3 linked regions of the Homo sapiens genome follow. The protein of the gene in region 3 purifies or fractionates together with the protein of the main gene of each other region. This does not show direct contact. Each region holds a gene or a part of one and is shown on either strand. Other genes may lie near its edges. The genes, in order: WDR6, GNL3L and FTSJ1.

The links.
Region 1: the proteins of FTSJ1 (region 3) and WDR6 purify together in Homo sapiens (affinity purification with mass spectrometry; 3 studies listed by BioGRID and IntAct, with this or other methods). This does not show direct contact.
Region 2: the proteins of FTSJ1 (region 3) and GNL3L purify together in Homo sapiens (affinity purification with mass spectrometry; 2 studies listed by BioGRID and IntAct, with this or other methods). This does not show direct contact.

The regions. Positions count from the first base shown.
Region 1 is NC_000003.12:49,009,577-49,020,016, reverse strand, and holds the end of WDR6 (tRNA (34-2'-O)-methyltransferase regulator WDR6), read right to left. Parts: intron 8,597-10,440; exon of another isoform or gene 8,405-8,596; coding exon of another isoform or gene 8,383-8,404; coding exon 5,901-8,382; intron 5,808-5,900; coding exon 5,724-5,807; intron 5,635-5,723; coding exon 5,518-5,634; intron 5,440-5,517; coding exon of another isoform or gene 5,418-5,439; coding exon 5,299-5,417; intron 5,193-5,298; coding exon 4,729-5,192; 3' UTR 4,430-4,728; downstream 1-4,429. Other genes in the region: DALRD3 (DALR anticodon-binding domain-containing protein 3), read left to right, coding at 1,453-1,617, 1,699-1,994, 2,148-2,404, 2,504-2,583, 2,661-2,789, 3,170-3,243, 3,344-3,405, 3,506-3,588 and 3 more. UniProt on the Homo sapiens protein: Together with methyltransferase FTSJ1, methylates the 2'-O-ribose of nucleotides at position 34 of the tRNA anticodon loop of substrate tRNAs. Required for the correct positioning of the substrate tRNA for methylation.
Region 2 is NC_000023.11:54,531,581-54,542,724, forward strand, and holds part of GNL3L (guanine nucleotide-binding protein-like 3-like protein), read left to right. Parts: intron 1-939; 5' UTR 940-986; coding exon 987-1,005; intron 1,006-7,459; coding exon 7,460-7,521; intron 7,522-8,554; coding exon 8,555-8,662; intron 8,663-9,692; coding exon 9,693-9,809; intron 9,810-11,144.
Region 3 is NC_000023.11:48,469,781-48,479,198, forward strand, and holds the start of FTSJ1 (tRNA (cytidine(32)/guanosine(34)-2'-O)-methyltransferase), read left to right. Parts: upstream 1-6,418; 5' UTR 6,419-6,616; intron 6,617-6,782; exon of another isoform or gene 6,783-6,888; intron 6,889-8,180; 5' UTR 8,181-8,267; coding exon 8,268-8,388; intron 8,389-8,668; coding exon 8,669-8,738; intron 8,739-8,836; coding exon 8,837-8,927; intron 8,928-9,257; coding exon 9,258-9,336; intron 9,337-9,418. UniProt on the Homo sapiens protein: Methylates the 2'-O-ribose of nucleotides at positions 32 and 34 of the tRNA anticodon loop of substrate tRNAs. Requisite for faithful cytoplasmic translation.

The sequences.
Region 1 (10,440 bases), on a different chromosome or scaffold from region 3:
GGGGTGGGGTGGGGGGTGAGTAAGTTACAGTGAAATGAAGACATTTGGGAACCTTTGTGGGAGAAAGAAAAAGACCTTTCCTATTGGTAGAGGAGCAAGATACTCCAACTGAGGCCTATTTTCTATTATGGTCGCATTATTTGGTTGGCCCGTAAATGGCTGTTGCCTAAAACAGGAAGCTTTAAGGATCGTTGTTAAAGCACACCAGGTTAAAGGAGTCACATTAAAAGCTGGTCATTCTGAGCCGGGCGCGGTGGCTCACGCCTGTAATCCCAGCACTTTGGGAGGCCGAGGCAGGCGGATCACCTGAGGTCGGGAGTTCGAGGCTTGACAAACATGGAGAAACCCCGTCTCTATTAAAAATACAAAAGTAGCCGGGCGTGGTGGCGCGTGCCTGTAATCCCAGCTACTTGGGAGACTGAGGCAGGATAATCACTTGAACCCGGGAGGGGGAGGTTGCGGTGAGCCAAGATCACACCACTGTACTCCAGCCTGGGCAACAGGAGCGAAACTCCGTCTCAAAAAAAAAAAAAAAAAGTCTGGTAATTCTGGAAGCCATCATGATGGTTGTGATTTCTCAGGTATCAAGAGAAGAAAACCGCCAACTGTATCAGAGTGCTTATTTATTGGGCATAAAGACCACCCGGGCTGGGTGCAGTGGCTGATGCCTGTAATCCCAGCACTTTCGGAGGCCGAGGCGGGCAGGTCACGAGGTCAGGAGTTCGAGACCAGCCTGGCCAACATGGCGAAACCCCGTCTCTACTAAAAATACAAAAATTAGCCGGGCGTGGTGGCGGGCGCCCGTAATCCCAGCTACTCGGGAGGCTGAGGAGGAGAATCCTGTGAATCCGGGAGGTGGAGGCTGCAGTGAGCCGAGATCGTGCCACTGCACTCCAGCCTGGGAGACAAGAGCAAGACTCCGTCTCAAACAAACAAAAAAACACCCATATCTCAAACGAGAAAATGCTTGCAAATAACCTGAAACCGCGGAACACTATTCTTTTTAAAACGAGATATTTTAAGTAGGTCGTGAAAGTGGCCTTAATGTTATACTGCCTTATTCCAGTGACGAATATTCATCATGTGTAAAATGGGAGAAATGAAATGTTATTAAAACAAACATGTGAGACTTCGATGAGAAGAGACGGTACCCGGTCTAAGCGCCCACCGGGTCGCGAGGATCCTTTTCCTGGTTAAGGCCTGGGTCACAGCGAAAGAACCCTAGGCCCAGGGAGGGCCCCGAGATTTCAGATCCGGGGCCCGGCTGTGCAGGTGGACCACGCGGAAGGGGCGCTGGGGGCGGTAGGTCGAAAGCAGCCGACAGGGCTACCACTGGCGCACCTGTCCACTTACGGGGACCACCGCCGCATCCCCGCCCCAGCTAGTCGGTCCTTTCCGGAAGTTCCACCTCCCTAAATTTTTTTCCGGTTCCGCTTACTCCTTCCGGTCACCATGGCGACCAGGCGCCTTGGGGTCGGGGAGACGCTGGGGGCCCTCAACGCGGCCCTGGGGCCAGGCGGTCCGGTGTGGATCAAGGAGACGCGCACCCGCCACCTGCGTTCCCGAGACTTTCTGGCACCGCACCGCGCGCTGCAGGCGCGCTTCGATGACGGCCAGGTGGGCGTGAGCCGGGCGGGGCCGTGCGGCCGGGAGATGGGCCCCGTGCCGTGGCTCTTTTACACGCCCGTTCTCCCGCAGGTTCCGGAGCATTTGCTCCATGCCCTCGCCTGCCTGCAGGGCCCCGGTGTGGCCCCGGTGCTGCGCTGCGCGCCGACCCCCGCGGGTCTGTCTCTCCAACTGCAGCGGTCCGCCGTCTTCGAGCGCGTCCTCAGCGCCGTGGCCGCCTATGCCACGCCCGCCTCGCCTGCCTCGCTGGGCCAGCGCGTCTTACTACACTGCCCAGCACTGCGCAGCTCCCCCTGCGCACTCCGCTTGAGCCAGCTGCGTACGGTGCTCGTGGCCGATCACCTGGCGCGAGCCCTGCGCGCTCACGGGTGAGCGGGGCCGCGGGGCCGGAATGGAGAAAGTGGGACTGCCGGGTACCTAGAAAGCGAGCGGCGCCGCCCGTGGGGACTGCGGCTGGAGGTGGGAAGTCGTGGCGAGCTGGACCAGGTGCTCAGACTGAGGCGGCCGCCCTCCCTTCGCAGGGTGTGCGTGCGCCTAGTGCCAGCTGTGCGGGATCCGCACATGCTGACCTTCCTGCAGCAACTGCGGGTGGACTGGCCCGCTGCCTCGGAGAGAGCTTCCTCCCACACCCTGAGGAGCCACGCCCTTGAAGAACTTACCTCTGCTAATGACGGGAGGACACTGTCCCCTGGCATCCTAGGCAGACTGTGTCTGAAGGAGCTGGTGGAAGAACAGGGCCGCACAGCTGGCTATGACCCCAACCTGGACAACTGTCTGGGTAGGACCTGAAGCCTAGCAGGGCCAGAAAAGGCAGGAGGGGGTTAGGGGCACATCTCTGCTTCTTGTCAGTCTCAGCACCTGTCTGTTCTCTTTTCAGTGACTGAGGATCTCCTCTCTGTGCTGGCTGAGCTGCAAGAGGCTCTATGGCATTGGCCCGAGGACAGCCACCCAGGCCTGGTTAGTGACTCCCAGCCCTGTAGGTTCTCCCAAACCAAGTATACTGTACTTCCACAGTTATGATTGTCCTCCCTTAGGCTGGGGCCTCAGATACTGGTACAGGCGGCTGCCTGGTTGTACATGTTGTTAGCTGTGAGGAGGAGTTCCAGCAACAGAAGTTGGACCTGCTTTGGCAGAAGTTGGTTGACAAGGCTCCACTCAGACAGGTAGGTTAATAATGATGGTGGAGCTCCCCACCACCTAACCCCCAACCTCAGAGGGCCCTTGAAAACCCACCGAGGGGCTTGTTAGCTGACAGAAACCAACACTTGACCTTGGGGGAGTTGCTGGACTTGAGAGGGCATGTACAGCAGGTGCAGAGGCTCTGGGGAAGGGGGGTCTGTAGACACATCCCAAGAACACTGAAGACCAGGTTGAGAAGGATGAACCATGCGTAGCCTGAGTGGCTGGGTAGACGGAGGCACTCAACCTGGCAGTTCCAATTTGAGGGAGTCTGGGCTGAGTAGAGGCACCAGATTTGGGCTCCTCAAGGGACTTCCTGGAGAGTAGCGCCAACTAGGCTGAGCCCCTGACATCTTTCTGACAGAAGCACCTCATCTGTGGCCCTGTGAAAGTAGCTGGTGCACCTGGCACTCTGATGACTGCCCCTGAGTACTACGAGTGAGTGAGGCTGGGAGGAACACCAACCTAAGCCAGGGTAATGAGGGGGGACTCTTTACCCAGGACCCTGCCCACTGGCCTTCCTCTCTTCCAAACACAGGTTCCGGCATACCCAGGTGTGCAAGGCCTCAGCACTGAAGCATGGTGGGGATCTGGCACAAGGTGTGCCTGGGAAACCCTGGCTATGTTCTGGGTTAGGGGCAGGTTTTTTGCATCCCTGCCCTTGCCTGCAGACTGACTGACCAACCCTATACTCCCTCAGACCCAGCCTGGACAGAGATCTTTGGTGTTCTCTCTGTGGCCACCATCAAGTTTGAGATGCTGAGCACAGCCCCACAGAGTCAGGTGAGCCTGGGAGCCTGACAGGGCCAGTGTTGGGGCACAGGGTGTGGTGGCTGCCTTCTCTCTCTGCAGCTGTGCTTCTATTCCCCAGCTCTTCCTGGCTCTGGCTGACAGCAGTATCTCCACGAAGGGCACAAAGAGTGGCACCTTTGTCATGTATAATTGTGCCCGTCTTGCCACACTCTTTGAGAGTTACAAGTGTAGTATGGAACAAGGTCTGTACCCCACTTTTCCTCCTGTGAGCAGTCTGGACTTCTCACTGCTACATGATGAGGTGAGTGTCCCTCCTGGTAGCTGGCACAAGGAGGCCTGGACTTCCCCTCCCAGCACCTTTCTCCCCAACAGGGTGAGTGGTTGTTGCTCTTCAACAGTATCCTCCCCTTTCCGGATCTGCTGAGCCGGACAGCAGTGCTGGACTGCACAGCCCCGGGGCTCCACATTGCTGTACGCACAGAGATGGTGAGGCATAGACAACCAGGACACTCTACACTCTATTCTTTATTCTGGCCTGGGGCACAAGAGCAAAGAGATGGGCCAGTGACTCAGTCTCTGTCTCTAGATATGCAAGTTCCTGGTACAGCTCAGCATGGATTTCAGCTCCTACTACAACCGGGTACACATCCTGGGGGTGAGCACACAGCAAAATGGGGTGGGACGTGCAGAGAGGTATAGGGTAAAGGCAAAGGAAGCAGAGGATGAGACCAGCAGGCCCTTTCTCTTTCAGGAGCCTCGACCACACCTCTTTGGTCAGATGTTCGTCCGCCTGCAGCTTCTGAGAGCTGTGCGTGAGGTGCTCCATACTGGCCTGGCTATGCTGGGTCTCCCTCCACTGAGCCACATTTAAGGCCACAGAGGCTCCAATACCTGGGAATGTTCACAAAGTCATCAACTGGAAAAAAAGCAAAAACCCACGGCCAAAATAAATTGGTACTGTTTGTTACAAAGTTCTGTCTTGTCATGGGGAGTCGGGCATATTCTTGGCAGCACTCCACTCACCTTCAGCTCCTGCACCGACATCAGGAACCCACGGCCACCACCTCCTCCCCTCAAGGCATGCTGAGCATGGGCACAGACAGCCCATCCCTGCTCCATGCTGTCTGTGAGCAGGCCCCATGCCCAGCACGCCAGCCACCGCAGGATACCTCAGTCATACCAGTTGTAAACCTCAAGCCCCTGACCCCCAAGGGCACAACGGTGGCCAAACTCAGGGCTCACAGGCCAGCAGTCCATGTCAGCCACATCAGGCACATGGAACACAGTGCTATTCATGAAGGTGGGTTCACCATGCCCCAGACGCCAGAAGGTCAGCCGTTGATCAATGGAGGCTGAGACCATGATGCTTGGGCTTAGGATCTTGAGGCCTGTCACATGGGCAGCATGTGCACAGGGGACAGAGTATTCCTCTAGCACACGCAGCTGGGGTACCAGCCCAGCCTCTCCCACAGCCTCTTCTAGCTGTAGCATCTCCACAGCAAGCACGAAGACATGGAGGGATCCATCTTCACTGCCACTGGCCACGAGATGGTGGCCCTCACGGGTGGGCAAGGTGTGCAGGCTGTTGATACCACAGCTGTGGGCCTGGAGAGTCAGGGAGGGGGTGCCAAGCCCTGAAGGAAGAGGAAGAGGGTAGTTGTCAGGGCCCCGCCTGCCACATGTGTGAGGGCTATGTGACAGGTGAGGAGGGGTAGCCATGGTTGCACATTAGCTACTCACGGTAGGGAAGCCCAGGATCCACTGGAGGCTCCAGGACAGTGGAGTCATGGTCTAGCATGGTGGTGAGATCCCAGAAAGCCAGGCTGCCATCAGTAGCTGCGCTGCACAGGAGGAGCCTCCTGAGAGCCAGGAAAAGACAGCCTGGTCAATAACAGAGATGAAGCTCAACAGGAACCCCCCAACCCAGCCCATGCAGGACCATCATCCAGCCCCTCTCACCGCCTCTGGTTGGGTGCCTCGTGTGTAAAGGAGTGGACCTTGAGGACACATCGCTTATGGTGGAAGGTTTCAGCAAGGAGCTGCAGAATCCGCCCAGAATCCTGCAAAAGAAAGAGCCTGGGGGGCGGGGGGTGGCCCAGCTCAGAACGCATCCTAGACAACCTTACTTCCTTTGTCTCCTGTCCCACTGGGCCCTATGCTCTCACCTTACGGCCCCATCACTACAGGCTGCAGCCACAAGGGGGCCAAGGCCGGGCTGGTCAAGTTCACACACAGCAAGGGACATGTACCTGCAGAGACAACATGCAGCTGTCAGGTGGAGCCTGCAAGCCTGGGAGCATCTGCATGACCCATACCACACCCTGCCCAGGAGCATATATTACCTGGTCTCTGGGTCTACCTTAACCATCCGATGCCGATTGCGTTGCCGGTCCCAATACTCATCTAGCCGGTGGGACGAAAGGTGCATGACATGGCAGGCGAGGCGGCTTGGGGTGCTGGGGTCCGGAGTAACCATGATGCTGAAGCAGTGCATCTCAGCCCGCCCCCCCGCAGACACCACATGGGCAGTCAGGCCTGGCTGAGGATCCTGAGGGCCACCTGGGGTGCCAATGCCCCACACAGCCACAGCACGTACCGAGGAGATATGGTTACAAACAGCTGTGAGTGCGTGGGCTGAGCCTGTGGTTGTAGGGAGTGCTAGGACACAGACAGTAGTGTCCTCACTACATGTGATCACAATGTCAGTCAAGTCGGGCCCCTCACTGCCAGGCTCCAGGTCATCAGGCTGCATGAAGCTGGGCACTCCATATTCAGGCCCCAGGGTAATGGTGCCCACACGCTTTACACAAGTGATCTCACGGCCATGCAGACCCTCCCGGAGAATCACGTGTGGCCGGGTGCAGCCACCCAGAGCCCTGTACAGCATGACATCCCCATCCTTGAGGTAAGCAAAGGCCATGGCCGCCTCAGTATCAGAGAATGCCCACGAACGGTGCCCTCCACCACAGTTGACGATGTGCAGCTTCTCGTGTGACCGAGGGTTCCACACCACAAACTCATTGGCATGGAAACCCAGGATAACCATGCTCCCATCGGGCACTATACGGAGCCCAGCTAGCCAGTTCATGCCTCGACAGGACTTCTGCCTTAGGACTGGCTGGAGCTGGCCGTCTCGTACAAACAGCTGGTAGTAGGCTCCATCACGCCCTGTGGTATACACATAGCCACCATGGCATGTGACTGAGGTCACACCCTGCTTCCCGTGCAGAGAGGGCAGGGTAGACACTGGGCCCAACCCAGTGAAAGCATTCCCACCCCCACTACTACCACTACCCACTACAGGTGCCCCAGCACCAGCCCGAGCCTTGCCTCCCACCCCAGGGTCCTTGAGCAGACCTGGTCTGGAGGGGAATAGCAGCACAGAGCCCCGGCGGTCACCACACACCAGGAAGTCACCTGGGGGTAGGAAGGCACTGCATGTGTGCCATCTCTGCTTGCTTGGGGGCAGCAGGTACCGACAACGTTCCTTGACAAAGATGGCCTTGCCAGAGGGTGCGGCTGAGATCTCTAGGCAAGCTACTACCCCGCCAGGGCCCGATGCCAGCAACAGGAGCTCCTCATAACCACGCAGGGCCCAGCTCAAGCTGTGCACCTTCCCAGGAAACAGGGTCTGGTCCACAGCAGCAGTTGGAGTGTTGATGGGGACAACCTTGACACGACCTTCCCCATTGGCCATAGCACACAATCCGAAGCCCTCGGGACCAGGAGCTGCCTCCAGCAGGCAGTAGGACTGGAAATGTTTATCCTCTAGCAGCTGCTCCCAGCACTTGACCTCGACGTCATAGAGATACAGGGCCCCTGTATCAGTCACTGCCAGCAGTCGCCAAGAGCCAGCCAGAGTCACAGCCTTGAGTGTACCTGGCCTACTACGGGACTTGAAGCAGAGAGCCGAGACCCCCAATCCCCGGTACCCACGCCCTACCAAGTGCCACAGCCGAATGCCTGAGTCATCACCCCCAGTGATCACCCAGGCCTGCCTCTCATGGGCAGCTATGGCCCGGATCCCACGTCCCTGGTGTCCCCGAAAGGCCTGGAGGATCTCACCTTCATGGCTCCACACCAAGCAGACACAATCCTCTCCTGCACTGATAAGGTAATTCTCTAGAAGCTTGACCTGCCACACACGGGCGCTGTGCCCAAAGCAGTGCCCAATATTCTGCACCCGACCCCCAGGCACTCGCAGGTCGCCCACCTTCCAGATACGAACGCTTCGGTCTTCTGAAGCTGTAGCCAGCAATCCCTTGCTTTCCAGGTATGACATGCTGAAGATGATGCCCACATGCCCACTGATTCGTCGGTCAGGTGCTACAGGTTTGTTGTCTGCTAAGGCAGTTGCTGGGTACCAGACCAAGAGCTGGTTGGAAACAGCACCTGCCACTATGGTCAGCTCCTTCCAGGCGTCTCCAATCAGGCAGGCTGAAGAGAGGGTGCACCTGTCTGTGCAGGGCACCTCTTGCAGGATGCACCCTACTACAGGGTCATATAGCACCACTGAGTTGTGGCCCAGGGCCAAGGCTATATTTCCCTCAAGCCAGCGTGCATCCCAAATCCAGTCAGACATGTTCCACAGGCCAGAGCGCCAAAGCTCCCAGAAGTGGCCCTGTCCCCAGCTAATTTTCACAACTCGGAGTCCCTTGCTTCCAAACACAGCCACCATGGCCTCCAAGTCAAGGTCTCCATTAGGCTCTGGCCGTACCCGGAAGCCATGGATAAGATAGTGGCCAAGCAGGTTCTGCACTCGCTTTATCATCCGCAGATGCCCACCAAAGTCCAAGCTGTACACCAGGACATCGGGACCCTCACCTAGATAGAGGCAAAGAGCCATGTCAGAGCTAGGTACCTAACTCTGATGACCCACAGGGAAGAGATGGGGATCAGGGAAACTTCTCGGCATGTAGCCTATGAATGCATCAGGACACACAATCCTGCAGCTTGAATCTTAGAAAATCCTTGGTCTCGGCCGGGTGCGGTGGCTCACGCCTGTAATCTGGGCACTTTGGAAAGCCAAAGCCAGACTCTGTCTCAAAAGAAAAAAAAAAAAAAGAAAATCCTTGGTCTCGGCCAGGCACGGTGGCTCACGCCTGTAATCCTAGCACTTTGGGAAGCCCAGGCGGATGAATCACCTGAGGTCAGGGGTTCAGGACTAGCCTGGCCAACAAGGTGAAAACCCCATCTCTACTAAAAAATTAGCCAGGTGTGGTGGCACGTGCCTGTAATCCCAGCTACTCAGGAGGCTGAGGCAGGAGAATCGCTTGAACCCAGCGGGTGGAGGTTGCAGTGAGCCAAGATCATACCACTTCACTCCAGCCTGGGCGAAAGACTCAAAAAAAAAAAAAGAAAAAAGAAAATCCTTGGTCTCAGCTTCAGCTGGACTTTCAGTGCTGACTTTGTGCTTCCCTCATCAGTCATTCTTTTTTTTTTTGAGACAGAGTCTCATTCTGTCGCTGAGGCTGGAGTGCAGTGGCACCGTGCAGCTCACTGCAACCTCCATCTCCTGGGTTCAAGCAACTCTCCTGCCTCAGCCTCCCAAGTAGCTGGAATTACAGGCGCCCACCACCACACCTGGCTAGTTTTTTTTTTTTTTTTTTGAGACGGAGTCTTGCTCTGTAGCCCAGGCTGGAGTGCAGTGGCACGATCTCAGCTCACTGCAAGTTCCACCTCCCGGGTTCAGGCCATTCTCCTGCCTCAGCCTCCCGAGTAGCTGGGACTACAGGGGCCTGCCCCCATGCCCGGCTAATTTTTTGTATTTTTAATAGAGACAGGGTTTCACCGTGTTAGCCAGGATGATCTCGATCTCCTGACCTCGTGATCTGCCCGCCTCAGCCTCCCAAAGTGCTGGGATTATAGGCGTGAGCCACCAAGCCCGACCAGTTTTTATATTTTTAGTAGAGACAGGGTTTCACCATGTTGGCCACGCTGGTCTCGAACTCCTGACCTGCGGTGATCCACCCACCTTGGCCTCCCAAAGTGCCGGGATTACAGGCGTGAGCCATTGTGCCCGGCCCCCTCATCAGTCACTCTTTTTTTTTTTTGAGACAAAGTCTCACTCTGCCGCCCAAGCTGGAGTGCTGTGGCGCGATCTTGGCTCACTACAAGCTCTGCCTCCCAGGTTTACGCCATCCTCCTGCCTCAGCCTCCCAAGTAGCTGGGACTACAGGCATCCGCCACCATGCCCGGCTAATTTTTTGTATTTTTAGTAGAGACGGGGTTTCACTGTGTTAGCCAGGATGGTCTCGATCTCCTGACCTCATGATCCGCCCACCTCGGCCTCCCAAAGTGCTGGGAATACAGGCGTGAGCCACCGCGCCCAGCCTCATCAGTCACGCTTGATGTTCACTTCAACCACAAATTTCTCAAACTCAGAGCCTCCTCCTCACCTCACTTTTTTTTTTTAATTAAAAAAAAAATAGAGATGGGGCCTGGCACAGTGGCTCACACCGATAATCCCAGCACTTTGGAAGGCAGGAGGCTCGCTTAAGCCCAGGAGTTTGAGACCAGCCTGGGCAACAGGGCAAAACTCCACCTCTAAAAAAATTATACAAATGAGCTGGGCATAATGGCGCATGCCTGTAGTCCCAGCTACTTGGGAGGCTGAGGTGAGAGGATCTCTTGAGCCCAAGAGGTGGAAGTTGCAGTGACCTGAGATTGCACCACTGCACTCCACCCTGAGCAATAGAGCAAGACTCTGTCTCAAAAAAAAAAAAAGTAAAATAAAATGAGAAGGATTTTGACAATGCAAAAAGAAAATAAAAGATGTAAAATGAGAAAGTCTAATCCAGTGGTTCTCCACAGGGGGCAACTTTCCCCACAGGAGACATCTAGCAATAGCTGGAGACACGTACGGCTGTCTCCAGGGGTTGT
Region 2 (11,144 bases), 6.1 Mb from region 3:
TCAACCAGCATAAAAGATGAAAGTTGTCACAGTCCACCTTCCATAGAAGGGTCCAGAATAGCTCACTGCAGGTAAGGTGCAGACCCGCTTATTCAAAGCTGCATAGTTGTGGAATCAGGCATATCGATCCTGTACCACAGCCCTCTCCAGGGTGAAGAGACGCAGGACCCATCCCCACAATCTAGAGATAAACAGATCTGTGATTCTTTCCCCATGCAGCAGAGATGCACACAGCCACTTTGTGGGTTTCCCCAGTTTCTCTGCACCCCAGAGTAGAGGGACAGATGGCAATCCCCCCAACCCAAATCACCAAGGTATAGACCCCAGGCATATGCAGGCACAGATTTTTACCCCCTCCTCCAAGATTTTGTACTTATCTCAATCCATATAGACACTCAGGTAAGAATCCCTGTTCTCAGGCCCCTTTTCCCCAGGGTAGACTCCTGAGATCTATTTACGCCCTTCCCCACCACCTCTCCCAGGGTAGATGAGATATAGAATCCCCTACTTGGGAAAAGAGGCACTATTATCACCCCATATAGAAATAGACCATCCTTGCATGTCCCTTTCCCCTCAGTGTGGAGGTGTTGAGCACTAGTCCCCTACCTAGAATATAACACTACAGTGTGGAGGAATAAGGACCAAAGACCCCATCTGACCCCATTTGACCCCACTGGGCTCAAAGCCCAGTGGCTTTGAGCCACTGACTCCACCCCGGATGAGGTTGAGACCTATTCCTCCCTTTGGGTAGTATGACACTGCCTTCTCTGTGTGGACTCAGCCATATGAGGCTTTAGCTCCAGCTTCTCCCAGTTTTCCTAATTATTACGCCTTCCTCATAATGTTCTTTAACATTTTACCTTTAGGGGACTTAGGAGGGGGCTTGTGGCATTGTGATTCCCAGCTGTCTTCAAATTGCTTCTTCTCCCATTCTGACAGGAAGAGAGCAAGCAGATTTGAACCTATCTGCTTTCAAGCTGGTCATCATGATGAAACTTAGACACAGTGAGTTTCCTTTACCACCCCTCCCAATCCTGTGCTTTTAATGAATATTCATAGAATTTCACAGCAACTTTTTGTTTTTTTGGTTTTTGTTTTGAGATGGAGTCTCGCTCTGTCACCTAGGCTGGAGTGCAGTGGTGCAATCTCAGTTCACTGCAACCTCCGCCTCCCGGTTTCAAGCATTTCCTGCCTCAGCCTACCGAGTAGCTGGGATTATAGGTGTGTGCCACCATGCCAGGCTACTTTTTGTATTTTTAGTAGAGACGGAGTTTCACCATGTTGGCCAGGCTGGTCTCGAACTCCTGACCGCAAGTCATCTGCCTACGTCGGCCTCCCAAAGTGCTGGGATTACAGGCATGAGCCACTGCGCCCAGCCTTCACAGCAACTTTTAAAAACTGTTGAATATGTTTCACATCACTCAGTCTGGATCTTTTTCATATGGTATCATTGCTGTCCTCCTGACTTCCTTGTAAGAGAATGTTTCCATTATGCCCCATTCTCAATTTACAGATGAGGAAACTGAAGCTTAGCAAGGTTAAGTGACTTGATCTGAGGTGAATTGCGATAAAAACATATCACACTGCCTGTAACCCCGACATGTCCTAACATTTTTCTCTATCAGTTGGTACCATAAGTTGTACTAGTGATTAAGAGCGTGCCTGTAATGCCAGCTGCTTGGGAGGCTGAGGCAGGAGAATCGCTTGAGCCTGGGAAGCAGAGGTTGTGGTGAGCCAAGATCATGCCACTGCACTCCAGTCTGGGCGACAGAGTGAGACGCTGTCTCAAAAAAAAAAAAAAGGAATAAAACAAAACAAAAAAAGAAAAGAAAATGATAACATTTGGATAGCACACTGGCACTGGGCAGGCTGGATGAGGATTGTGCTCTGTTTTCTGTGTGAATGCTGGCCCTGCCAGTGGACAGCTTGGTGGGAAAAAAATACATTTTTTATATAATCATAAAAATGTCATCAAGAATCATACTGTTAATACCAAAAGCAAATAATCATACTTTTATTTTATTTTTTATGTTTTTTTGAGATGGACTCTTGCTTTGTTACCAGTAGAGACGGGGTTTTGCCATGTTGGCCAGTCTGGTCTTGAACTCCTGACCTCAAGTGATCCGCCTGCCTTGGCCTCCCAAAGTGCTGGAATTGCAGGCGTGAACCACCATGCCCGACCAAATAATCATATTTATAAGTAACACAAGAAAGGTGGTAATTATACTTTATTTAGGAACATCTAATACTAGATGATAGAAATATTGATAGTGATGGAAAAGACAAAAATTACCTCGTTAAATAAAGTAGGATATATGCATACTTAAGAATTCTGGCTGTTTAAAAGATAAAGTAGTATCATATAGAAAGATTATATGGAAAAACTGTATTGTGTGGAAAGACTATTAGATGGAAAGATCTTCAGATTTGCTAACTGAAAGCAGGCATTTGCCACTATGCCCCACTAATTTTTTTTTTCAATAGAGATGAGGGTCTTTCTATGTTGTCCAGGCTGGGCTTGAACTGCTGAGCTCAAACAATCCTCCCATCTTGGCTTCCCAAAGTGCTGGGATTACAGGCGTGAGCTACCACACCTGGTTTTTTTTTTTTTTCTTTTTAACAAGAGGGAAAAATAGTCTCAGCTTGGCACTGGTGAGTCTGGAGGGCTACGTTCTCTACCTACTGACCCCCGGATAAACGTGTGGCAGTGAAAACAACAACCACCTTTTGAGAGGCCTGCAAGTGAAGCATTGTCCTTGGGAGAGCCAAGTATCAAGGCAGGAGCTTGGACAATTGATCCCAGGGAGAGGTTGTTAGGGGAGTGCTGATCACCCAGGTGGGAGTTTCAGAGAATGTTGTGGGAAATTTGATGCTACGGCAGAGGAAGGATGAGGGGAATGAAGTCAGTGGGTGTACAGGGACATCTGTGGGTGACAGTATGGGAGATGAGGGATTAGCGAATACAGAGATCTGCTTTTGAGTACTGATGAATTGGTGATTTTAGGCCTAGATGATATTGGTGGATGCATTGAGGCTCAGAGAGGTTTTAAAAAATTCTTCAAGGTCATATAGCTAGGTAGTTGTTGAGCCAGAGTAAGAATGTCTGCTGGTTATAAAATGGTAGCTGTTTTCTCTCTGGAGTTGTTGAAAAACCTATGAGCAGAGGCTCCTGAGTGCTGGGAGGGATGACTGACTGCACCCCCTTCTCCTTTTTCCCTCCCCCCTTCTCTTCTCCCCTCTGAAGCACATTCTTTTTCTCTCCAAGTGATGTGTTTTCTTTCACTGTGTGCTTGTATCCATTGCAGGCACTCAGTTTCCAGGGAAGTTAGGCAGATGGAAATTGTTGAGTGAAATGTCCAGACCTGGTTCATTCCAAACCTCACATTTTTTTTGTTGTTGTTGTTGCAACATGAGTACTTTAGAAGAAAGGAGACTGGTGGTCTGTTTCGTGTTTATTTAAACTGTGTTTATTTAAATTCGACCCATTCACATTTGTTATGAGACGTTTATGTCTGGTCAGATTTCTACCGTCTTATTTTTTATTTATTTATTTTTTGAGATGCAGTCTCGCCCTGTCACCCGGGCTGGAGTGCAATGGCGCGATCTCAGCTCACTGCAACCTCCGCCTCCTGGGTTCAAGCGATTCTCTTGCCTCAGCCTCCCGAGTAGTTGGGATTACAGGTGCCTGCCACCATGCCCAGCTAATTTTTGTATTTTTAGTGGAGACAGGGTTTCACCATGTTGGCCAGGCTGGTCTCGAACTCCTGACCTAGTGATCCGCCCACCTCAGCCTCCCAAAGTGCTGGGATTACAGGTGTGAGCCACCGTGCACGGCTCTCTACCATCTTATTTTATATTTATTATTTATTTTGTTTCCTCTTATTCCCTTATTTATGTTTTGCTAACTTGATGAAGTTTTTAAACAATCCTCCATCGGTAATTAAGTTATGTTGGTAATTGTATTCATATTTATATCAAACATAATTAATTCTGTATTTATCACTTTACCAAAGTTAAATAATGACTATTTTGTAACCTACCCTTTCAAAATGAAACCTTTAGCATGCTTTCATGCTTTTGCTTTTCCAACCCCCATTACTTGATTCCTGGATTTTATTGAAATAATTTGGTATTTCAGTTCTGAGCTATTTCCTTATGATATGCTTCTTCGATTTTAAGAATCCTTTTTTTGTTGTTTTTTTGAGACAGGGTCTCACTCTGTCGGCCAGGCTAGAGTGCAGGTGTGATCATGGCTCACCACAACCTCCGCCTCCTGGGCTCAAGTGATCTTCCTGCCTCAGCCTCCTGAGTAGCTGGGACAACAAACATGTGCCATCACACCTGGCTAATTTTTTTTTTTTTTTGAGACAAGAGTCTTGCTGTGTTGCCCAGGCTGGAGTGCAGTGGTGCGATCTTGGCTCACTGCAACCTCCACCTCCTGGGTTCAAGCAATTTTCCTGCCTCAGCCTCTCGAGTAGCTGGGATTACAGGTGCGTGCCAACACGCCCGGCTAATTTTTGTATTTTTAGTAGAGACGGGGTTTCACCATGTTGGGCAGGCTGGTCTCAAACTCCTGACCTCAAGTCAGGCATCCGGCTAATTTTTGTATTTTTAGTAGAGACGGGGTTTCACCATGTTGGGCAGGCTGGTCTCAAACTCCTAATTTTTGTATTTTTAGTAGAGATGGGGTTTCACCATGTTGGCCAGGCTGGTCTTGAACTTCTGACCTCAAGTGATCCACCCGCCTTGGCCTCCCAAAGTGCAGGGATTATAGCTGTGAGCCATCGCTCCTGGCCTCAGTGATAAGTTTTAGTAGATTTCCGTAGATTTCCTGCCCACCACTGTTTGTTTCCTTTAGCTTGGGATCTTTATTCTGATTTAATTTTTATTTTGCCAGTAGTTTTATCCAAAAGGAAACACAGGGCCAGGCGTGGTGGCTCATGCCTGTAATCCCAGCACTTTGGGAGGCCAAGGCGAGCCAATGACTTGAGGCCAGGAGTTTGAGACCAGCCTGGCCAACATGGCGAAACCCCGTCTCTACTAAAAATAAAAAAATTAGCCAGGCACAGTGGTGCACGCCTGTAATCCCAGCTACTCCAGAGGCTGAGGCAGGAGATTTCCTTGAACCTGGGAGGTGGAGGTTGTAGTGAGCTCAGGTGGCACCACTGCACTCCAGCCTGGGCAACAGAGCGAGACTTTGTCTCAAAAAAAAAAAAAAACAGAGAGAGAGAGGGAGGGAGGGAGGGAGAGACGAAAGAAAGGAAGGAAGGAAAGGAAAGAAAGGAAAGAAAGAAAGGCAAGTGGTAATCTTTGCTCACCTGAAAATGTCTTTTTCTTACTTTCACAAAGTAAGAGTGATCTGTTGGTTAGAATTTTATCTCTTTATCTTTAGAGTTCAGAAATTTCATCAGGATATGTCCAGGGTATGTCTTTTTGGTTGTTAATCTTTTTTTTTTTTTTTTTTGAGACAGGGTCTCTGTTGTCCAGGCTGGAGTGCAATGGTGCCATCATAGCTCATTATAACTTTGAATTCCTGGGATCAACCAGTCCTCCCGCCTCAGCTTCCTGAGAGCTAGGACTACAGGTGCATGCCGCCACACCTGGTTAATTAAACTTTTTTTTTTATATAGACAAGGTCTCACTATGTTGCCTGGATTAGTCGCAAACTCCTAGTGTCAAGCGATCCTCCCACCTCAGCCTCCCAAAATGCTGGGATGACAGGGTGAGCCATGGCACCCGGCCTTGGTTGTTAATCTTGCTGCTGCCTGTGTCTTTCCAGTCTGAAACCTCAAGCCTATGTTCAACTTAAGGAACTTTCGTCTGTTATTCAGAAAATTATTGCTTCTCCATTTGTACCCTTTTCTCTTTCAGGAACTCCTGTTTAGATTTTAGCTGTCTTGGCTCTATTGTCCATTTTTTCTTTTATATTTTTGCTCATCATTTCAATTTCTTTGAATTTTTGCTCTAAGTAAGCCCCTCCTTTGGTCTTCTAGCTTATTAATTTGGTTGTTAGTGATGTCTTTTTTGTTTTTCACTATTTCTATTGAATTTTTTTAAGAGACAGAGTCTCACTATGTTGCCTAGGCTGTTCTCGAACTCCTAGGGTCAAGTGATCCTCTTGCCTCAGCCTCCCAGCTAGCAACAGGCAGGTGCTACTGTGCCCAGCTTAAGTTTTGACTGTTAAAGCAGTCTGTGTTTGTGTATTTTTTTAAGAGATGGGGTCTTGCTTTGTTGCCCAGGCTGGATTAGAACTCCTGGGCTCAAGGGATCCTCCTACCTTAACCTCTCATGTAGCTGGGGCTACAAGCATGCACCACGGCACCCAGCTTTTGAATTTTTATTCAGTGTCAAGTTTTGGAAAATCTTTTTTTCTCACACAGTTCCTTTGAAGTATCTTCTTGATTCTCCTTAAGAATTTGCAGTAGCTCGAGACTAGCCTGGCTAAATGGCAAAACCCCATCTCTACTAAAAATACAAAAATTTGTATTTTTGTATACGAATACGGGAGGCTGAGGCAGGAGAATCGCTTGAACCCGGGAGGCAGAAGTTGCAGTGAGCCCAGATCACACCACTGCACTCCATCCTGGGCAATAGAGCAAGAGTCGGTCTCAAAATAAAAAGAATTTGCAGTAGAACTTAAGTTCTGTTTCGTACCTTAACTCTGCAGTGGGAGCCAACTGATGTGATTGTGGAGCCTGTTCTCTGTGTGGTATTCTCGAGCTGCTCATATAATATATTTGTTTGTATATATCCTGAGCTTCCAGAAACTCCTGTCTCTCTAGGAATTCCTTGAGCCCCTATGAAGGTGGTAAGAATTAAAGGGAGCCATTCTTCCCAATAGGCCAACTGTGAACGGGTTGAGAGATGGGACTTCTTATTGAAGAAGGGGAGAGGCCTCATAAGTTCTTGGGCTTTGCTAAGTCATGATTGGAGAAGTGGTAGATCTCTTCTTTTTGTATCTGAGGGAGGCGGCAGCATTTTGGCTGAGTAGGTCAAGTCCCTTTGGAGGCAATGGCCTGAGCAGGGTCAGCAGGAAGGATGGTTCTTTCCCCACATACTGAGGGCATCTGCCCAGGTTTAGTGGGCTGGGACTCCTTAGATTACCTTCTCATTCTGCCAGCTCCCTCATCTCAGCCTGGCACTTAAATTGTTGAGTTTCCCCCAGTAGGAAGTTCTGGGGGAAAGAGGAGTCACAAGCACATATTCAGGTTTCTCTCTGTACAGAATTCCTCTCAGAATTATTTGAGTTTGCAGTGAAATAATGTGCAAATATTATATCCAGTACTTCCTCTGATACTATTGCTGCCATCCGCATCTCTTGTCTTGTGCTGGATCTAGACAGACATGGTATCTGAGGCTTCCTAGCTAGGTTCCCAGTGTGGCCTGGCCTTGATTCAGATGTCAACAAATATCGTGTAGATGGATGACGGCTCTTTTCTTTCTTTTTTTTCTTTTGTAGAAAATAAAAAGCCAGGTGAAGGTTCCAAGGGCCACAAGAAGATAAGTTGGCCCTACCCTCAGGTAAGGTATGCCTGTTGTTGAGGGTAAGGTCAAGAACAGGTTGCTTGTCCTGGGAGAGGCCCACTAAACCCAGTAAATATTGGGTGACTCTGGACAGAGTGCCACATTGGAGTCAGTGGATCTGGCTTTCCCTCCTTCTCTGGGTGGCCGCAGCAGAGAATCAGCAGCATTTTTCCCAAGTCATATGCAGCTTCGTGCTTGATTTACCTTGGTAGGGATTATCATTATCCCCATGTTTTAGTTGAGGAAACTGTCAGTGAGAAAGTTCCTAGGTTCAAGGTAACGCAACTGGGATTTGAGACTGTCTGATTCTCAAGTCCCTGTTTCTTATGGAGAAGAGGGAGGCCAAAACATCATCTTTGGTTCCTGGATCTCCTGGTCCTGCTGGGAAAGGTGTGGGTAAGTAAGGCTTGGGAAAGAGCAATGAGAAGAAGGTATAGGCCAGAGAAGGCTTGGGTTCTCACAATTTAGCATGGGTGAAGCTCTCAAACTTTAACCAGTCCTCTAGAATCACCTGGAGGATGGGGGAAAACATCGATTGCTGGGCCCCACCTCAGAGTTTCTGATTCAGTAGGTCTGGCATGGCATCCCATGATTTGTATTTCTAGCAAGTTCCCAGGTGCTGCTGCTACTGCTGGTCTGAGGACCACTCTTTTGAGAGTCACTTATCTAGAAAGGTTTTCCCTGGGCCTTGGGAAACCTTCCCAGCTGCCCTTCCCCTCTGAGAGGTCTCCTGTCAGTCCCTGCCTAGCTATAGGAGAGAGGACCTCTACCCAGCCAGATGGGCAGATCTTTGGGGATGGAGCCCTTTTTGCTTCTCTCCTTTCTTTGTCCCCACAACTACACTTATCTGAGAAGCTTTAACTCCTGCTGCTCACCTTGGGAGTGAGGGGATGAGAGGATGAGAGGATTGAGAGATAGAAGGGGCATTTATGAGGGGATGTTGTCTTCCTTCTAGGGCTTCTTGCTGCCTTTTTGAGGTGATTTCCATGGGTTCATTACCTCTGTTTTTTTTCTCTTATGTGGTGGCCAGCCTGCAAAGCAAAATGGGAAGAAAGCAACCTCCAAAGTGCCCTCTGCACCTCATTTTGTTCACCCCAATGATCATGCCAATCGAGAGGCTGAATTAAAGAAGAAGTGGGTAAGCTTTTTGCCTTGGTGGGGAGAGAGAGGGCCTGCCTTGAATGCCAGGTCCGCAGAAGTGTTGAATGGAAGGGCAAAGGCAAGAGTTGTTAGGGTTGTTGAGGCTATTTGTGGAAGCCGGGAGAGAGGGAGGTTACCATGATACTGGATTTATGTCTGCGTTTGTTCACCACCCAGTCCATTGCTGTCTGGCTTATGCTTCCACTGCTCTGCTGACACTGCCCCTGCTGGCCTCATCAGCGCCTTCCCTGACATCACATTCATGAATAGTATTCTTCCCTCATCTTATTGGAATGCTCAGCATTTGAGGCTATGCTTTCTTTGAAGCATGTGGACTTTCTTGTCATCTCACTCTCCTGGATGTCTTTCTTCTTTGACTAGCCACTGACAGTCTCTTTTGCCACTTTTTCCCCTTTCTTATCTTTTTTTTTGAGATGGAATTTCACCTTGTTGTCCCGGCTGGAGTGCAGTGGTGTGATCTCGATTCACTGCAACCTCTACCTCCCGGGTTCAAGCGATTCTCCTGCCTCAGCCTCCTGAGTAGCTGGGATTACAGGCATGCACCACCACGCCCAGCTAATTTTGTATTTTTAGTAGAGATGGAGTTTCACCATGTTGGTCAGGCTGGTCTTGAACTCCTGACCTCAGGTGATCCACCTGCCTTGGCCTCCCAAAGTGTTGAGATTACAGGCGTGAGCCACCCTGCCCAGCCTTCTTCCTTATCTTTAAATGATGAAGCATCCCAGGACCTTGGCTTCTTTCCATCTCTGGTCTTAAGTGGTTCCGCCTGCCTAGGATACATTCTCTCTCTGCTTTTTATACCCTCTTTTCTCTGCAACTCTTTCCTTCCCTTCATCTCTCTTTTTCTTCTTCTCAAACCCTCATCTCCTGATGTCATATCTTCCCTCTCCCTGGACCCTGCTCCTGCCACCTCTGCCATGTCGCACCATTTCCTCTGTCTGTCACCCATCCCTCCCTTAGGCTGCAGACCCAGTCAGCTCCAGTACCAGTGTGTGTTCACTTGTTAGGTTGAGGAGATGAGGGAGAAGCAGCAAGCCGCCCGGGAGCAAGAAAGACAAAAACGCAGGACCATTGAGAGCTACTGTCAGGATGTCCTAAGACGCCAGGAGGAGTTTGAGCATAAGGTAAGAGTGCAGCCCTTGCCCCTGGGTAGGTTTGCTCAAAGCATCTTTTGCCGTTTTTCTGTGAAAGGGAAGAAGGTGTGAAGTTGTTGGAGGGGAACAAGGGAATCAGTGTAGAGAGGATAGAAAACCATGGGGACGGACGAAGGGAGGGAGGGAGGGATAAAGGGAGATAAAGGGCCATTTTGAGCCTTACCCGTGACTGGACACCTCTGGAGAGCTCCTCTCTCCCAAGGTTGAGCCTGAAGACTGGGGCTGGTGGCGGAGTTGGGGGCTGGGAGAGTTACATGTGACCAGGGGATGGGGTTGGGGGAGAGGGAGCGAAAGTATGAGGAGAGGATTGAGAGACAGAGAGGAGCATATGTGAGGGGATGTTGTCTTCCTTCTAGGGCTTCTTGCTGCCTTTTTGGCAGATGTTCTTGTTTCACACACAGAATACACGCTTGCCAGCTCATACTCCCTTTTCTGATATGCAGTGTGTATGCCTCCCCCATCCTGTGTCCCTCATAGATTGTTTTTTTCACACCTCCCTCCTCCATCCCTCCCTTTCACACCCATGTGCACACTCAGGTCTCCACCTGGTGCTCGAGCACACGTATACACATAGGCGCACACATGAACCATGGGGTTCTGTCCATTTTTCTTCCAGTTCCCAGCTTTATTGGTTGGTCAAAGCTACTTTTTGGTGGCCTGAGACTCACATGATTTATTTTTTAAATTATTATTTTACTTTAAGTTCTAGGGTACACGTGCACAACGTGCAGGTTTGTTACATATGTATCCATGTGCCATGTTGGTGTGCTGCACCCATTAACTTGTCATTTACATTAGGTATATCTCCTAATGCTATCCCTCCGCCCTCCCCCCACCCTACAACAGTCCCCGGTGTGTGATGTTCCCCTTCCTGTGTCCAAGTGTTCTCATTGTTCAATTCCCACCTATGAGTGAGAACATGGGGTGTTTGGTTTTTTTGTCCTTGAAATAGTTTGCTGAGAATGATGGTTTCCAGCTTCATCCATGTCCCTACAAAGGACATGAACTCATCATTTTTTATGGCTGCATAGTATTCCATTGTGTATATGTGCCACATTTTCTTAATCCAGTCTATCATTGTTGGACATTTGGGTTGGTTCCAAGTCTTTGCTATTGTGAATAGTGCCGCAATAAACATACGTGTGCATGTGTCTTTATAGTAACATGATTTATAATCCTTTGGGTATATACCCAGTAATGGGGTGGCTGGGTCAAATGATATTTCTAGTTCTAGATCCTTGAGGAATCGCCACACTGTCTTCCACAATGGTTGAACTAGTTTCCAGTCCCACCAACAGTGTAAAA
Region 3 (9,418 bases):
ACAGAAAGACAGATGGGCGGGAGGAGGGGATGCTAGGGGAGCTTGGAAGACAGGCAGAGACAGGGAGAAAGGGACACACAGGCAGACTCAGAAACAAACAGGTGGGTAGGGATAGGCTCGTGGAAACACCTGCAGAAAGGCAACAGGCAATTGGGCTCAGTCATAGACAGGAGACACAGGCTGGCCAAGAGGTGGGGGACAGAGCCAGACAGCTCCCCAAACAGAGGGTAGGACCAGACACACCAGCTCAGAGAGATGAAGGGGCAGAGAGAGTGGTTGAGGCAGAGAGACTCCTGGAGGGACAGGAGAAAAGAGGCAGAGAGAGGCAGATTCAGGCAGAGAGGCCTGGGGACAGCAGGGGAACAGGTGCAGGGGTAGTAGCCAGGCTATTCCAGGCAGACCTCAGGCAGACAGCCTAGGCACGAGAGGACCCTAGATCTTGGGGGCCCCCAGAGGGAGGCAGGGAGGGCATTTGTGGCTGGGTGGGGAATGTGGACTGTGAACTCACACTGTCCGCAAACTGGGCGGGCACTGTAGTCCTGGACCCCACCCCAAGCGTGGGGTGGGGCTTGTCCAAGCCCTGAGAAGTCCCACTATCTGTCTGTCCGTCTGTCTTCTATGGGAGTCCGTCTGTTCACTCCCCTCCAGGCATATGACAGGCATGCCTGTCCCAGGCAAGCCACGTGTCCGCTACAGGATGTCAGGCAGGGTGGACTTGGGGTCTGGGACCACCTCGACTGGGCTGCTTGAAGCCCAGGTGGACAAGAGGCCTCTGTCTGGGCCCCTCGCCCGCCTGCCCACCCCCGACAGGGAACACAGAATTCCCGGAAAGGCCAGGAGCTGGCTGGGGCTTCAAAGCTGGCCTAGATGCCCTCACCCCACCCACAGTTGGAGGAGGACAAGGGATGGGGCGTTTACTTCCCCACAGCGGGAGAGAGACTCCTGCACACTCAGGAATCGCAGCTACACAACAGGACCCATCACAGCCCCATCAAGGGGCTCAGATACGGGGGCCAACTCGCCATCACTCACAGAGGTGCACAAAGACTCACAGCCACACAAGAGAATAAAGACTGACAGACATGAACACACACAGACTCACCACTGCACGTTAAGAGCAATGGCTCATGGGACAGTCACACACGTGGCCACACAGAGTGACGATAGTCTTACAGCTATCAATACCGACAGGCTCAGAGCCGCTCACAGAGAGCACAGACTAACACAGGGATAGGCTTGTGCCGATTTCCAGACACTCGAGACTCCTGAACCTCACCGCCCGTGGACCCACAGCCATGCCAAAGACAATCAACAGGCAAATCACACACACAGATTCACAGCCACACACAGAGCACACAATTACACACAGCTGATGACATTGTGTGTGGGTCCTGGGTCTTTCCCACACACACGATCCAGGTTCAGATGGCCCTGGATCTGAACCTGAATCCAGGTTCAGATGACCCTGGAGGCAAACTTCCAGGTTCAAGCCCTAAAATGATATCTCTGTGTATGTGAACTTGAATGTGCACTTGTGACCACATGTAACCACATACAGCTCCAGTCACAGAGAGAGGCACTCATAGGCTGACATGATTTTTGTACAAACAGAAAAGCCATAGTCTCCTTCTCTCTCTCTCTCCTCTCTCTCTCTCTCTCACACACACACACACACACAACTGCATTTCAGCAAATGGCTGCACACAGCCGTGTACACACACAGCTAGTCACAAATCAAGTCAGAAAAGAAACATATAGGGAAAGCATATACCTGCACACAAACACAAAGCACAGGAATGCAGAGTACGCTTACTATCGTTGCAAAGAAAAAATCCAGAAACCACACTGAAAGCTACACAAGGAAAAAACAAGAGAACCAGATAGTACTCATACCATGGCACCAGAAGAAACACCCCGAGGGCACACATACCTGCAGCCACTCGCTAAGAAGAGACACAAATACAGCAGCAGACACACAAAGAAAGATACGTGCGCATAGATACACATATAGGAGGGACAAGTACTCTGACACACTTGTCACCCACGACCATTACAAAGGAGACAAACACCCAAGCAACACACACACACAACAACATATAGATGAACTGCACCGACAGACAGTACCAATGCACACGGTTGCCAAAAAAAAAAAAAAAAAAAAGGTATGAGTTGGGCCGGGTGCAGTGGTTCATGCCTGTAATCCCAGCACTTTGGGAGGCCAAGGTGAGTGAATCATGAGGTCAGTAGTTCGAGACCAGCCTGGCCAACGTGGCGAAACCCCGTCTCTACTAAAAATACAAAAAAAATTAGCTGGGCGTGGTGGCGGGTTCCTGTAATCCCAGCTACTCGGGAGGCTGAGGCAAGAGAATTGCTTGAACCTGGAAGGCGGAGGTTGCAGTGAGCCAAGATCGCGCCACTGCACTCCGGCCCAAGCGACAGAGTGAGACTCCATCTCAAAAAAAAAAAAAAAAAAAAGCACAAGTTTGGCAGGCGGCCATAGACAGAACGCAGCACCAGGCAAGTTACATAGGAAGACGCAGGCACAGCTCACATACGTGTGGCTGTGGCTGAGAACGGGCAGGTGAGATACACTCAGCATATTCACACACACGTGCGCACACACTCCTGCCCAACCTCCTCCAGCCTCTGTCTCCTTTCCTATCTACTCTGATTTCTCTCTCCCCTCATACCCCTCCCCCACCCAGAGCCATTACACATCTGTGCTACCAGCTGGCCAGGGAAAGAGACACCTGTCACTAGAGGCTTTGACCCAGATGGCTAAAGGTCGGGGGGTGGGGGGGATGCAGGTATCCATATTTCAAGTCTGAAGTGTCCCGTCCAAATAACTAGCATACTTTATTTGGATTTAAAAAAAAAAAAAAAAGACAACCCCCCTCCCCTCTGCATCCATTCGCCGCCTCCCTGCCACAGCCTCCTGCTCTGATTGCTCCCCTTCCCTCCCAGGGCCTGCCTCTACTGGCCTTCCAACATGGACCAACACAGGGCTACCAGGCACACAGCAGGCGCTCAACAAAGGCCACTTATCTAATGTCGTATTATTATCATTACTTTTATTTCTGCCAAAGGAACTCTTCTACGGGAGAGATGAACCTCCATCCAGCTCTGAGAACCCGACAGCTCTGCTAAGTTTCAGGGCACTGCAGATAGCAGGTGCTCAACATAAGCCGGTATGGCAGCGGGAAAACAAAGGGAATGTGTGATCTGGCTGCTTAGAGGAATTTGCTTTAGAAGGAACAGATGTCTTTAAGCAGGACCGAGGCCTTGAGGCTGTGCCAGGGATAAGAACACTTTGTTAGTTCATCAAAGTAGGGCTCCTTCTCAGGGTCATTTAAGGTTTCTGTTGGTTCAGTAAACCAGACCCTTGTGTGACACATGGGAGTCCCGTGAAATCTGTTAAAAGTCACTTTGGGTTATCATCAGTTCTAAGGAGACATTTGATGAAAACAGCTCACTTCCCGGTAGCATCCAGGGGAGGGAGGGACACAGTGAAGCAGTTAACAGCAAAAGCTTTCTCAGCTCTGCCACTTATTAGCTGTGTGGCTAAACAAGCAAATTCCTAAACCTCACTGAGTCTCAGCTTCCTCAAGGGCCTAATAACGCCTAACTCATTGGGCTATCGAGACAATTGAATTAATTAACACAGGCAGAGCACTTAAGACAATGCTTTACACATAGTTATTGCTCAATACATATTTGTGGGAGGAATTAATGATTTCTTCTCTGCGAAAGCAAAGTCCCACTTGCTGGGCTGCATATGGGATTCCAATCTGTCCTTTCATGCAGGCTCCCCACGGAGTAACTCTTTCCAGTCACTTCCTTTCCTCAAAGCAGCCCCTGGGCAGCAAAGTCCTAGTCCCCTGCCCCTGGGCCACCCCCCTCGTTCCCTCACACTGCTAAGATGCCCCCACCGGGAAAGAGCTGGCCTGGCAGCTCCCCCTTCCTTGACCCCTCCAGGAGGCCAAGGGAAGGACACCTTTACACTCAGTGGGGTGCCGGGTGGGAGCTGCAGGCCGACACCCTACTTCGGGAAGAGCCTGGAGAGTTCAGAGCCTGGCTCCTGTCCCCCAAACCCCCGGTCCTGCTGGAGGAAGCAAGTTTCTTTGCTAAAAGTTAAACATCCTCTTCGTGAGCGACAAGAAAACAGGACGTGGGAAGCGTCCCACAGGGTGAACATGGGCCCCCAATGCCTGGCACCCCCTCCTCTCTTGTGGAGCGGAGGCCTGGTGGCTCGAACCCTTCCTTTCTCACACTCGCTCGCCTCTGCAGGGGAGTCATGTTCCCACAGTCCCACAATGCCCTTGAGTTCTGCTGACAAAGCTCTGGCTTCTTCCCTGGTTCTCAGAGTCTCTACGCCTCCACCCAGGGCTCCATAGAAATGCAGGACGCACCACTGGGGAAAAAATTAAGGAACGAAGCAACAAAAGGATGAATTCAACCAACATTTATTGAACACCAACTGTGCGCCACCCCTGTTCCAGGCACTGGGAGGCAGCAGTGAACATGACAGAACAGGAATCCCTGCCTGGTGAAGCTCGTGTGCTAAGGAATCAATCATTCTGTTTTTTTTTTTTTTCTTGAGACAGGGTCTCACTCTGTCGCCCAAGCTGGAGTGCAGTAGCACGATGTCGGCTCACTGCAACCTCCACCTCCCAGGTTCAAGTGATCCTCCCACCTTGGCCTCCTGAGTAGCTGGGACTAGAGGTGCGCATCACCACGCCCAGCTAATTTTTGTATTTTTAGTAGAGACGGGGTTGCACTATGTTGGCCAGGCTGGTCTCCAACTCCTGACCTCAAGTGATCCCCCCGCCTCGCCCTCCCAAAGTTCTGGGATTATAGGCGTGAGCCACTGCATCCAGCCCTTTTATTTTTTAAAGAGACATGGGTTCTCGCTATGTTGCCCAGACTAGATTCAAACCCCTGGGCTCCAGGGATCCTCCCACCTCAGCCTCTGGAGTAGCTGGGACTAAAGGCACATGCCGCCGCCCCTGGCTAATACTCATATGCATGTTGCCAGGATTAAAATGAATGAACAAAGGGAAGGACATGCTGGAGCCAACTTATACAGGTTGGGAGGAGCTGTTCAATTTTCAGAAATTTTGCAAACTGGTTGTTAAACAGCTGGTTTAACAACTGGTTTTGTTTGTTTGTTGAGACAGGGTCTCACTCTGTCACCCACAGTGGAGTGCAGTGGCAAGATCAAGGCTCACTGCAGCCTTGACCTCCCAGGCTCATGCAATCCTCCCACCTCAGCCTCCCAAGTAGCTGGAACTACTCGCACACACCACCACGCCCGGCTATTTTTATTATTTGTAGAGACGGGGATCTCACCATATTGCCCAGGCTGGTCTTGAAGTCCTGGACTCAAGCGATCCTTCCACCTCAGCCCCCTAAAGTTAAACAGCTATGGTTAAAAATGAAATGATATAAACTTACTCAAAACTGGTAACTTCCTAATTTTACCACATTCCACTATTCTCTATGCTCTTGAGGTCATTTACCCCCATTTTATCTGTATGGTAAAAATAATACATGATAGTGCACTACTGCATCTCTTTTAAACTCCCTGTTCAGTGACCACAGGTCGGTACCTTGAAATCTAACAAGAAGATTGTACCTAAGCCATGGAAATTGGTAAATGCTAGAAACCAGCCTCCCTTCCCCCCACCCCTCCCCGCCACCACCCCCGCCCCAGCCAGTGGTTAACCATTTACCAGCACACCACTGAGGGCATTTAGAGCCTAGCACATGGTAAACACTATGATAAACGTTTTCATTATTTTTCCGTTTGTCCACTGGGTCAGGATGTATAGTCTTTTTTTGTGTCTGGGATGGAATTTAAAATATTTGAAGATCACAGAATTACAAAAGCCCAGAGAGTGGCTAAGCTACACCTATTTAACCCTCCCAATAATGCTGTTAAGTCTATACTATTGATTATCCCCACTTTCCAGACAGGGAAACTGAAGTTCTGAGGCAGTAAAACTCAGGCAGCGCCATGCATTAGCTGTAGTGCGATCTGAAATTGCAGCCGAGCAGCCTCCGCGCGCTCGCGCACTTCAAGAACGCATTTTCCTTACTGTCACGTTTATGCCCCGAGTGGTAATTTCGCTTCCCGGCACGCGAAAAATGAATGGGCGCCATCTTGCGCGTGGCATCTTGGGAAATGTAGTTTACAGGCTCAATAACAAGCACGGTCCAAGAAGGGAGGGGCGGGGGAGCAAATCGATCTTGGCCTCGGAAGAAAAAGAACAAAGAATCGCTGGCAACTTGCGCGTCGCGTCGCTGCAGCCACGCAGTGCGTGGATTCAGCCGCTTTGGCCGTGCCCGTTGCATGCCGGGAAACGCAGTTCGCGAGCCCCGGATACGTCGACAATAGATGACGGGGCTCACGTTGTACGTTCACATCAGGTCCCGGCCCGCCGGAACCTGGGCGATCCACGATGCCGAGTTTGCCACGCTGCGACAGCCCATAGGCTTGCCCCCCCGGGCATTCGGGTGGACTACGAACACAAACTGAAGCCCTAGGACTTGTCGCCCGTTTGCGCTCTCGCCGAGGCACAGGCTGCTCGCGGACCACCCTGCTCCGAAAACTAAGGTGGGCCCTGGGGCGCGGAGGACAGGAATGCGGGCGGAGGCTATTGAGGCACGCCTGCACTGTCCCGCCTGCGGGGAAAGGAGGGAGGTCCGCCCTGGGCGCCGTAGCTGTGTATGGTTCGGGCGGCTGGCACCGGGTGGGTTCTAGACCCAAGGTTTGTCTGCAGAAGGGGACCAGTAGACGGGGTGGATTCGAGGTGGGGACATGGGACGCAGCGGTCGGAGCCGCCTGGAGGGGTACCCGGTGGTCCCGATGGAGCTATCATCTTTGAGGTATTGATGAGGAGGGACGGGGAGTGTGGTCAGAAGGCTGTTTTGGGAGGTTGGGTGGAGCGTGAGGGTGGGGTGTTACTGGGGAATCAATGGGGGCTAATAAGAATATTTTAGTCGAACTGTTGTTCATTGATTGATTAATGAGGGGATGGCAGAGTAAGCAACTAGAATATAACGAGTGATGGATGGGAAAATGATCCCCCAGGTATTGATGGAGGTATGATATTCAACGGGTTAATGGAAAGTGATGGGGCATCGTAATGGCAAGGATGATGGTGAGGTTGTGGGGGGAATAATAGATGGATGGAGGTCATGATCAAGGGGCCTTGGTGAAAGAAAAGATAATGAGAGGCTGATGGTGTTGTAGTCAGAGTCAGTAGTTGGGCTATGGTGGCATGACCGTCGAGGAATTAGGGGACAGAGTGAGTAAAGAGAGGGCAATAGTAAACTAGGGTTGGGGGGGTTAACTTCTGTTGATACATAGTAGGTGAATAGTAAACTGTTGGAGTGTGATCATCCAGTGATGGATCCATGGAGAGCAGGGTGGACAGTGAGGGGAGAATGGGGAACTGATGTGTGATCAGTTAACGTGTTTGTTAATGAAAGAGTTACAGGGCAGGAGGCTAGTGCTGTGATCTATGAAGGGTCTATTGGAGAAAACTGAGTTAATGGGGGCTGATAAATCAGTAATTGAATGCTTAATGGGGAGCTAATAGACCATGATTCTCCAGGCATTGTTAGAGGTTCATAAGGATGTAGTAATAAAGGGGCCTAATCATCTAAGGGATTAATGGCGAATGGGGTGAAACGAGAGAGATATAGGGAGTGGGAGGTACAATGAAGTAGTATTAGGATAAAGGTGGAAAACAAGGGATTAATGGGGGCTAATAGGACTATATGAATCTAGGGGCAATGGGGACAACTGGGGATACAGTCAGTGAGATTTTAATGGGCATGACATGAGCAGAGAAGGGTTGATAGTGGCAGTTGCAGGGTTTAATGTGTGGAGTGTGGGTGACAGTGATGGGAGGTGGACAGGTTCACAAGTGGGCCATCTATGGGATGAATGTTGGGTTTATGGGGTCTTTTGTGGGAACTGTGGGGTAAGTGATGGGGGCGAGGAGGGTCTGTGTGATAAGCAGTGGAGCCTGAGAGTTCAGTGATTGGGTCCTTCAGGCCCTATAAGGTCAGTGGGGTCAGTGCCAGGGCTTCAGTCAGCCCATCTTCTGTGTGAGCTGTCATGTGGGTCAGATGAGCCCAGTTTAGTTTGTGTGGTTCTCTCCGCCCTACAGAGGTAGGTGGTAGCCCATTCATCTGGTTACTGATACTGGCCGGCATCAGTGGACTGTCGGCAGGTCCTTGAGCAACTGGTGTGTGAAATGGGACGGACGTCAAAGGACAAGCGGGATGTCTACTACCGCCTGGCCAAGGAGAATGGCTGGCGTGCTCGCAGCGCCTTCAAACTGCTACAACTGGATAAGGAATTCCAACTCTTCCAAGGTCCCTGACTGGTGGGCAGGTCACTGGGCGGTGAGGTGGGCACAGGAGGTAAACAAGTAGGCTGGGTCTGCAGAGCTCCCTGTGGTAGGTGGGCTGACTCAGAGGGTCTCTGGGGCAGGGAGACAGGCAGGAAGATAGGCAGAATACCGGAGAGGAGTTGGGCACCTGGGCAATGGAGATATGTGGGTGCTCCCCAGGGGAGAGGGGTGAATTTTGCAAGGGTCTCCAGGTTGGAGAAGTGGGTGCAGCTGATCAGGATGCTTTCACTATGTATGCCCAGGCGTGACACGGGCAGTTGACCTGTGTGCAGCCCCAGGCAGCTGGAGCCAGGTGCTGAGCCAGAAGATCGGGTAAGTGTGGGGGTCCCAGATGGGAGACCCAGGAGGGCCGGCTGGGTGGGAGGGGCCCGGGAGCGAAACTAGGCTGATGTGGGCCATGTTGTCCACAGGGGCCAAGGGTCCGGCCACGTGGTGGCTGTGGACCTGCAGGCTATGGCTCCACTACCAGGTGTGGTACAGATCCAGGGGGACATCACCCAGGTAAGAGCATGGCTGAGGGTGTTGGGGTATATCCTGGGTGAAGGCCCTTACCTGGGGTCTATGCAGAGTGGAAGAGAAACAGAGAGGTGATAGAAACAGAGAGAGAAAGAGAGTGAGAGAGTAACCATGGAGAAACAGTCAGCAGGTCATCATTGCACAGACACAGCAGAAAATGATGATGCTGGGTCCCCAGAGGTGGAGCCCAGTCTTAGAGAGGCAAAGCCTGGGAATTTGGCTGACCCAGGGGCTGTGGGCCAGGACCATGGGCAGGCGGGATCTGAGGGCAGCAGTGGAGGGCCGTGGGGCCACTCATCCTCCCTCTCTCCATAGCTGTCCACTGCCAAGGAGATCATCCAGCACTTTAAGGGCTGCCCTGCGGACCTAGTGGTGTGTGACGGGGCTCCTGATGGTAAATAGCAACAGAAAGTGGGAGGCCAGGCGGGGCCCCCTGTGTGTGTCCTTCTCTGTATCTCCCACCTTGGTTGACTTAT